3 separate regions of the Homo sapiens genome follow, and regions 2 and 3 are each reported to be linked to region 1. The links are microRNA targets in miRTarBase. Many come from high-throughput screens and were not tested one by one. Region 1 holds a microRNA gene; each other region holds the end of a gene's coding sequence.
The links. Region 1 holds the annotated microRNA hsa-miR-4717-3p (ACACAUGGGUGGCUGUGGCCU, at 1,431-1,451, opposite strand). A microRNA usually pairs through its seed, bases 2 to 8, with sites in the 3' UTR of a target mRNA and lowers its output. Matches are read on the target gene's strand: a 7mer-m8 pairs with bases 2 to 8, a 7mer-A1 pairs with bases 2 to 7 and ends in A, and an 8mer does both.

Region 2: the mRNA of ZBED3 is a reported target of hsa-miR-4717-3p. Seed matches in the 3' UTR shown: 7mer-m8 at 886-892 and 7mer-m8 at 3,039-3,045.
Region 3: miRTarBase lists NACC2 as a target of hsa-miR-4717-3p. Seed matches in the 3' UTR shown: 7mer-m8 at 2,022-2,028.

What each region holds. Positions count from the first base shown.
Region 1 is chr16:2,272,960-2,276,111 of GRCh38, reverse strand. It overlaps MIR4717 (microRNA 4717), which reads right to left and starts at 1,492; the gene lies at 1,421-1,492. It overlaps ABCA3 (ATP binding cassette subfamily A member 3), which reads left to right. Exons shown (of 33, transcript NM_001089.3): 33 at 1-231. It overlaps MIR3677HG (MIR3677 and MIR940 host gene), which reads right to left. Exons shown (of 3, transcript NR_132988.1): 3 at 3,040-3,125.
Region 2 is chr5:77,074,528-77,077,656 of GRCh38, reverse strand. It overlaps ZBED3 (zinc finger BED-type containing 3), which reads left to right. Exons shown (of 3, transcript NM_032367.4): 3 at 1-3,129. The coding sequence ends at 483. Among named protein-coding and RNA genes, the nearest start is that of SNORA47, 4.5 kb to the left of the region's middle. RefSeq lists a silencer at 1-219.
Region 3 is chr9:136,008,612-136,011,763 of GRCh38, reverse strand. NACC2 (NACC family member 2) reads left to right here. Exons shown (of 6, transcript NM_144653.5): 6 at 1-3,152. The coding sequence ends at 248. Among named protein-coding and RNA genes, the nearest start is that of UBAC1, 49 kb to the right of the region's middle.

The DNA of each region.
Region 1 (3,152 bases):
AGGGCATGGTAGTCACCGCGAAGCCGGGCACCGTCCCACAGCATCTCCTAGAAGCAGCCGGCACAGGAGGGAAGGTGGCCAGGCTCGAAGCAGTCTCTGTTTCCAGCACTGCACCCTCAGGAAGTCGCCCGCCCCAGGACACGCAGGGACCACCCTAAGGGCTGGGTGGCTGTCTCAAGGACACATTGAATACGTTGTGACCATCCAGAAAATAAATGCTGAGGGGACACAGTCACAGTCTGTGGGTCACACGCGCGAGCGGTCACAGGGCTCAATCACTCGCCCACAATCTAGACATGAGGCTCTCCTTTCACATTTCAATCACACAAACGTGGGACGTTGCTTTTCCCAGAAGGGAGCACACGCAGAGAATACACTGAGGTGAAGGAACAGGCCCATAACACAAAGGAAAAAGCCGGCTAGATCAACGCCCGGTGACAGGCTCTTAGTCTAAAGACAAGAGCAGGTGGGGCTGTGTGGGAAGCACAGGTCTGGTGGGAGAGAAGCTGCTGGCATCAGGGTCACCCGTGGGCATTTGCCATTTCCCAGAAATAACTCCTCATCAGCTCCCTTTTTAGTTATTTATGGAGTCTTGCTTTGTTGCCCAGGCTGGAGTGCAGTGGCGCAATCTTGGCTCACTGCAACTTCTGCCTCCCGGGTTCAAGCCATTCTCCTGCCTCTGCCTCCCGAGTAGCTGGGACAACAGGCACGCGCCACCACACCCAGCTAATTTTTGTGTTTTTAGTAGAGACGGGGTTTCACCATCTTGGTCAGCCTGGTCTCGAACTCCTGACCTGAAGTGATCCACCCACCTCAGACTCCCAAAGTACTGGGATTACAGCCATAAGCCACCGTGCCTGGCCCCTTTTTATGCACTGTTTTGTGTTTTGTCTTTTGGAGACAGGATCTTGCTCTGCTGCCCAGCGTGGAGTGCAGTGGTGGTATCACAGCTCACTGCAGCCTCAAACACCTGGGCTCATGCAATCCTCCCACCCCAGCCTCCGGAGTGGCTGGGACTAAGGGCATGCGCCACCATGCATGGCTAAATTTTATTTTTAGTATAGACGAGGTCTCATGTTGGCCAGGCTGCTGCCAAACCCCTGACCTCAAGTGATCCACCTGCCTTGGCCTCCCAAAGTGCTGGGATCACAGGCGTGAGCCACCATGCCCGGCGAATGCACTATTATTTCTTATGGTTTTCTAAACCCGATTTGAACTTCTGCATTTTACATTCCCTTAGAATTCAGAGTTTTAGAAAAGACTTGTTTTCATCACTTTGGCTCATTTGGGACAATTTCAAGTCTGTGTTTTTATCAGTCTCTGGAAATTTATGAAAGCTGCAAATCGTCTCCAGTAGCTCTTTTATTCCCTTTAAACTTCTGCCATCTAGTTCCATGTTATAAAAAATATAACGTGTTTGGGCAGTGTTTAGGCCACAGCCACCCATGTGTAGCCACCCCTACACATGGGTGGCTGTGGCCTAAACACTGCCCACGAGAAAAGTTCTGAAGTGGGCCCTTCTGGCCCCACAGCCTGTCCGCAGGGGCTGTGGCCTCTAGGTCGGGCCTGGGGCTAGGAAGAGGGAAAGGTCAGTGCACGAGGCCACCCAGCTCCATGTCCATGCCCATGGCCCTTCTGCAGGGCATCCTCAGACTTGTTTTCAAGCCCATGTGTTAGAGATTTAGGAATGTGTCATTTTTCTCCTGTGACACCCTAAAAGAGGGTTGGGGAGAGCGTATAGGACTGAGGGCACAGCCCGCATGAGGCACACACGTGTGAGGCCAGCGTACACAGGACACGCACAGGAGATACCATCCTTCCCGGTAGCACGCTGCCAGCACCAGCAGGGGTCTTTAAGTAAGGACTGGCACAAGTAGAATGCCTTCTTAGGAAAATGATCCGCAGCTCAGGAGGCTGCTGCGTGGGGACCGGGAGGGGCAGGTGCATTCAGGGCGTCTGTGGCAGGGGCCCAGGGCTGCACCCAAGCCTGGAGCTTAGATGACCCCAGGAGCAGCAGGAAGGGCCCATCTGGCATCCCAGGGAAATCCTCAAGGCCTCTGGAAACTCAGTGCTGGAGCTGGGTCACCAGGGGTGCCCTAAGGAGCCTGGGACTGAAGCCTCAGGACCCTGCCCTGGCCGATTTTTGTCTGAGCTGTGGCAGTTCCCAGCCCACGGGAGGGCAGGGGAAAAGAGCCTTGGGCCCAGGGATAGGAGTGACCGGCCTATCCACGCTCCACCCTAGACCACGGAGGGGGGCCACACATTCTCTACGGACACTGTCCCCAAACAACTGTGGCATCTGACAGAGCCAACTCCTGCCCTGCTCCCAGTTCACCTTAGACCTGGGAAACGAGGTTTTGACTTCACTGCTCTGCATGGCCTGGTGCAGGGCTCCCGTGAGCAGACGGCCCATGGGCCACGAGCCAGGTATGTGGAAGAGCCTGTGCCTTCTGTCCTCCAGGCCGGCCCAGTCCAACGGCGTGGCTCAACTGAAACCACACCCAGAACTCGGAGAGGGGAAGACCTCGCGGTGGGGCGGGCCCAGGCCAAGCCCCTCCACTGCCATCACAGGTTTACAGCGGAGCAGAGGGGCAGGCCGGATACAGGCAGCCCAGGCCACAGGTCAGGGGACCCACACCAGGCCACAGGAACAGGCTTGCTGAGGGTATCAGAAAACCCCAGGTCACAGTGGTTTGAAAAAGAAGTTTATTTCTCAGCCATGTAGGCAGGAGGAGGCAGTCCAGCACTCGGTCACCTGAGGTCTCAGGGAGGCAGGCTCCATCTGCTGCCCCGTCATCCTGGTTCACGCCTCCCTCCTCATGGTCACCTCTGTGTTCAAGGAAGTGCTTGGCCGGGCATGGTGGCTCACGCCTGTAATCCCAGCACTTTGGGAGGCCGAGGCAGGCGGATCATGAAGTCGAAAAATCAAGACCATCCTGGCTAACACGGTGAAACCCCGTCTCTACTAAAAATACAAAAAAATTAGCCGGGTGTGGTGGCGGGCACCTGTAGTCCCAGCTACTCAGGAGGCTGAGGCAAGAGAATGGCGTGAACCGGGGAGGCGGAGCTTGCAGTGAGCCGAGATCACGCCATTGCACTCCATCTGGACTACAGTGAGACTCCATCTAAAAAAAAAAAAAAAAAGGAAGTGC
Region 2 (3,129 bases), not on the chromosome of region 1:
CAGGTGGGCCGCGGCCCGGGCTTCCACGCGGGGACCTCGGCGTTGTGGAGGCACCTGAGGAGCGCGCACCGGCGGGAGCTGGAGAGCAGCGGCGCCGGGAGCTCCCCACCTGCCGCGCCCTGCCCGCCGCCGCCCGGCCCCGCTGCGGCCCCCGAGGGCGACTGGGCGCGCCTGCTGGAACAGATGGGCGCGCTGGCCGTGCGCGGCAGCCGGCGGGAGCGGGAGCTGGAGCGGCGCGAGCTGGCCGTGGAGCAGGGCGAGCGCGCCCTGGAGCGGAGGCGGAGGGCGCTGCAGGAGGAAGAGCGCGCCGCGGCCCAGGCGCGCCGGGAACTGCAGGCCGAGCGGGAGGCGCTGCAGGCGCGGCTGCGGGATGTGAGCCGCCGTGAGGGCGCCCTGGGCTGGGCCCCCGCTGCGCCGCCGCCGCTCAAGGACGACCCCGAGGGTGACAGGGACGGCTGCGTCATCACAAAGGTCCTCCTGTAGGGGTGTGGCCACTTCCCCACCCCAGGACAGCGCTTCTCCGTCCAATGCCAATGCCTTCAGACCCCGCTGGGACCGAAGCCGTAACCGAAGCCAGGCCCGCAGCCGCTACTCACTCGGAAGCTCCAGCTAACTGTAGGATCTTCCACACCCTAAGGCTTCAGCTTGAGAAGCACTTCGAAGCCAGAGCAGAACCAAAACTCACTTCCATGGGGTCACCGGGGGTGCCTGGGCGGCCTTTCGTGGGCATGCACGCAAGGAATTGGGGTGGCACACGGGACACCCGAGAGCTCCAGGAGCCCCGTGAACCCAGACCACCCAGTGCCATGGCCACTTAGGGCTGGGAACCCGAACCTGGTGACTTTGAAAGGATAGAGCTTCATTCCATACCAAAGACTTATCACACCATGTGCCTATACACCCAGCAGCCCAAGGTGGAGGGTGCGTGGAAATGAGAAAGCTTTTTACCCAAAAAAAAAAAAAAAAGAGTTCCTAATGCATAATCTGCCCAACACCAAGTTCTGAAGGGTGGGTGAGGGACGTCCCCTCTAGTTTCCATGACTGCTGTAGACCCGCATCATCTCTAGCCCTCATCGGGGCAGTCCCAGAGCCCGCTTTTTTACTGCCCATATTATTCAACCAATACCAGGTGCACTCTGTCTCCCCTCGGCCATCCTTCCCTTGCTTCAGACCTAATGACAAGTGTGGCACATATGTCCACTTTCAGGCCTCACATCTGCCACCTTAGCAAGACATCACCTCATCCCCTTGTCACTAGGAAGAGGGCTTCTTCCCCACATGTCGTCATAGTGCTCACCTCTGGGCTGAAGGGGAAAGCATCCCTCCGCTTAAGGCCACATCTACCTGTCATTTTCCATCCCATTCCTCTCCCACGTTTACTGGGTCTTTCCTCCTGTAGTATTCCCCCTTTCGCTGTCTCAGTCCCTCCCTTTCCCCCAGGCTCTTCTTCCTCAGCAATGTGCAGTCTCCCTTTCTTACTGAAAAGAAAGACTTAACCCAGAAGGGCCAACAAGTCCTGGCTGCCTATCCTTCCTCCCCAGTTTTTACTCCCTCACTCTGGGTCAGTTTTCTTTTCTTTTTTTCTTTATGTGTGTATATATTATATATATATATACATATATACATATATATATACATATATACATATATATATACATATATACATATATATATACATATATACATATACATATATATATATATATATATATGTATATATAATACTTTAAGTTCTAGGGTGCATGTCAGTTTTCTATGCTTCACCAGACTATTTCCAAGCTGCCACAATCTCCCAGTGACCAAATATGATGATCTATTTGCAGCCTTCATTTTGCTTAATCTCTCCCTTGAAATTGCTCTCTTGGTAGGTGGATCCTGTTTTTCCTTCAAAGAATTCCTTTTCCTGTTGCATACTGGTTCCCAGTTTTTCCATAGGCCTCTTTTTTTTCTTATTTTTTTATATTGAAAAATTCCACACATCCAGAAAAAGTTGAAAGGCTAGCACAATGAATACTCAGATACATACTCTCCACTTGGATTGAATAGTTGTTAACATTTTGCCAGATTTACTATTCTCTCCACCCCATGCATGTGTACATAGAATGACATTTCGACCCCTGAGTATTACCACATAGATTTCCTGAGCACAAAGACACCGTTCTACATGATTACATTAAGATGATCATGCCTAAAAATATAAACAGTAACTTCTTTATAGCCTCTAATACAGAGCCCTTAATCAGTATTCAACAATTGTCTCCAGAATGTTTGTCTTTAAAAACAACGACAACAACCAGGTCCCATCAAGGTTCATACATTCTTTTGGTTTCAACTCTAGTCACTTTCAGTCTACAACAACCCCAACATATTTTCCCATGATACTTTTTGAAGCATCCAGGCCAGCTGTCTTAGCAAATGTCCTCTATTCTGGAAGTGTCTGATTGCTTCCTTAGGCCTATGTCTACACTCCACTCGTGGCTCATATCCCTGCAGAGTTGTAATCTCCTCTGGGCCAGGGACTCCTGAATATCTCCAGGCCGAGTGTTCTCCCCGGGCCTGGAGAAAACCTTCATGCCCAATCCCTTGCTGCATGTCTCCACCCCTCCTTGCACATCCTGCCTCTATGAGTGGACGAGGCAAATCTACTCAACCCCACATCCCACCCCTCACCTGATAACTAACATTTACTGGGCACTAACAATGTATCAGGCACATACTACACACTTAACATGCATTGCTTTCACATACCAGCTCCATGGTAACATTGCGCTGGCTTTACAGCTAAAGAAACTGAGCTAGAAAGGGGTTAAGTATCCTGTACAAGATCACAGCTGGCCAGCAATAGAGGTGGGATCCCACTGCAGACAGTCTCCCCCACAGATGCCATGCTCCCACTGTACCACCATGTACTGCTTCCTGAGATCTCTGCTTCCTTCAGTCGACCCAGCTGACACCTGTTTCCTTCCTAACTCCAACTAATTAATTCCAGTTAATGGAATTGACTGGAATTAGTGACATTAATATTTACTGAGCATTCCCCATGTGTCATCAGAGCTGTGCTAAATGCTTTACAAGAATAATTACCTGCCATAAAGCAACCCTATGACATAGGTGCTACTATGCCCATTT
Region 3 (3,152 bases), not on the chromosome of region 1:
TCGTGGCTCTGAGAACTGACGCCGTGAATGTTGACCTGAGTGCCGCCGCCAACCCCGCCTTCGACGCCGGCGAGGAGGTGGACGGGGCTGGCTCGGTCATCCAGGAGGTGGCCGCCCCCGAGCCGCTGCCCGCCGATGGCCAGAGCCCCCCACAGCCCTTTGAGCAGGGCGGGGGCGGCCCCAGCAGGCCCCAGACGCCGGCGGCCGCGGCCCGGAGGCCGGAGGGCACCTATGCAGGGACCTTGTAAGCGGAGCTGGGTGGCTGCGCGAGGGACCGAGTACTAGAGCTGCTTGCATGCGTTACTAATACAAACAAATGTGATCAAGCCACTTACCTACTGAACTGCTACTGTTGCCTGAGAAAAATGTGATTTTTATTCTGCTTGTATTTAAAATTGATGAAGGAAACAAATGCATTCATTATACTGTAAACAATTAGGCCACTGGCAGCCTCCTGCGAGGAAGTTCCCAGGGCTCCCTTTTGATATTCACAAGGTCAGCCTCCAAGTGTAGCTTCCCTCCCCCTTCTTGGGGAGGGTGGGAGGCCGCCAGGCCCCTGGTGCCCAGCCCTGCCCCTTCCTCCCTGCCCTTCCTGCTCCTCCTGCCCGGAAGACGAAGCAGGGGCCGGCGGTGGTCTGTGGCGAGGGGGCTGGGCTGTGCGTCACTGACCCTTCCTTCCTTCCCCATGGAACCTCTCTGGGGCGACGGGGCAGGGCTCAGGCTCCAGGGCCTAACTCCTCGTTTTTCCTTCTTTCGGAGACTCGGGGCCAGGCCCACCGGGCCTTCCACCTGTGTGGGGTGTGTGCACGAGTGTGTGTGTGTGCGTGTGTGTGCAGGGGTGTGGTGAGGGGGCAGTGATGGCTGTGGCCCACCCCTCGGGGTGGAGAAAAGGGTACTTTACTCTGCCCCCACACCCTGTCCTTGTTCTGCCCGATCCGTCTCGGCTCTGCAGCCCCTCGGTCCCCTGACCCCCAGGGCACCGCTGACCCCGCCTGGCCTCCCACTGTCCCGCCCGGGCCCACTGTGGGACGTGCACAGCTGATGTAGCACACGCTGCCCTCTGCCGCCTCAGCCACTTTGGGATTATGCTTGTCTTGTTTTTTTTAGGTTTTGTTGTAATTTAGATCTATTTCATATATGGTTTGGAAACTTTCAGACTCAATAGAACAAAAACTTTGGGTGGGATGGGTGTCCCTGTCCCCAGCCCACCATGGCTTGGGGTGGGTCATCTGTGGCCGTTAGGGTGCGTCCCCCTGCTCCCCCGCCCAGGGCCAGGGACCACTCGTCTCCCACTGGGGGAAAAAGGGGGTCCCGGGTGGGCGACTAGTACGTGTGAAGCTGAGCTCAGGGCCGGACCTGGGGAGCGGGGGACTCCGCTCGGGCAGGAGGCAGCGGCCAGGGCTGGGCCAGGGCGAGAGTCGGTCCTCCCGGTGCTGGGCTCCCCGTCTGCCTTGAGGGGTGTGCATGGATGGAGGGTGCCTGAGGCTGCAGGCAGGGGATGACCGGGACAGGCCTGGGCTGGGGCAGTTGGAGGTATGGGCACTGGTAGGGGACAGAGGGTTAGGGATCATGTTGGGGGGCCAGGGACAGTGGAGGAAGGGCCCATGGAAGATGGGGCTGTTTGGTTTGAGGCTGGAGTGCTTCCTTTGAAATTTAATTACTGTTTTTTAAGTGGTAGGGCTCACAGACTGTGTGAAGTCCTGTGTGAAGTGCTGGTGTGGCCACCTACCCAGGTGTCCCTCCCTTTTGTTTTGGAGGCCTGTGTCCTTGTCCAGGGGCAGCCCTCCTTCCCAGGTGTGGCCAGAAGAACCCCCCATCCCAAGACTTGAAATGTCTGTTGCTCACCTCTGTCCCTCCAGAACTCGGCTTCCCCATCTTCACTTGCAAAACAAGTGCAGCCCTGCGCCCATCAGCACCCCCTCCGGTGTGCACACAGGCCAGTGAGCGGTGGCCGACCAGCGCACCCCACTCCCCCAACCTCCACAACCCATCAAGCGGAGGCCGCCTCCGCTAGGGGAGGACCATGTGCTGCACCCTGGCCTGGGGACCTACAGGGTGTGGGTTAGACGCATTCCCACTGGGCGGCTCCTTTCTGCCCCGAAGCCCACCCCTGTGGCGAGGCCCTAGGAGACCTCCCGTGGGGCCGCCTCTACAGACAGCACTCAGCCTCCTGGGCTGCCTCCAGCCAGGCCCAGCACATGCCTGCCCTCCAGAAAAATACGTTGCTTTCCAGAAGGAGGTGGGGGACCATGGGCAGGCACTGTGGACGCTAACCTCGGCCCCTCCACCCATTCCTCAGGGCCCACGTCCAGGGGGACCAAGACCTGCATTCCTAGGGCTGCAGGTGGCTCAGTGGTGCAGAGGCATCCAGACCTTCTGCTGAACTAAGAACCACCCAGCCTAGAGGGAGCCTTTCTCTGCCTCTTCCTCCCCTGTCTTGGGCACAGGTGGGGTTGGAGCCCCCATGGGGCCCGCTGGGAACCTGGACCAAGCCTTCCTCGGAGATGGGAGGAAGCCGCGGGGTGGAGCAGGGGCAGGTAGGTGAGGTTGAGCTGCACTTGAGTTCCCTCTGGAGTTTCCTTCATCTGCCCCACACCCAAATTTGCACTTTAATTTGACCATCCCTGGGGGCCTGGCTGCTGACAGAAGGGCTCTCTCTGCCCTCCACTCCAAAGTGGGTGCCCCCCCACCCTTGGCCAGGACAGGGAGGGAGCCGCTGGCTGCTGCCGGAGGTGGTGGCTGCACAGAGGACGCCTGACTGCTGTTCAGGCCCGCACAATGTCCCGTGCCCCTTCCTCACTCGTTTGTAATCGCCGTCTGTTTTGTTCTGGGTAAGGAAGGCAAGAGCTATAGATAAAACTTAAATAATAATAATTTAATGTGAATGGGTTCTGAGCTCTCCCTGCGCCCCGGGCGGGCCAGGCCGAGCATTTTGCACTAATGTGTCCCACGGTGGGCGTGAGTCGGGAGTGTCTGTGGACGTGCGTGGCTGCTGAGCGGACCTGCTGTGTGCTCCCTCCACGTCCTGAATGTACCGTGGGGCGGGGGCGGCGGCCCGGGCTCAGAGGGGCCTTCCAGAGTGCCTTAGCATCCTTTGATCATTTTTCCCAAGGAAACCAATTAAGAAAGCCGGACCCTTCCCTCCTTTGTTT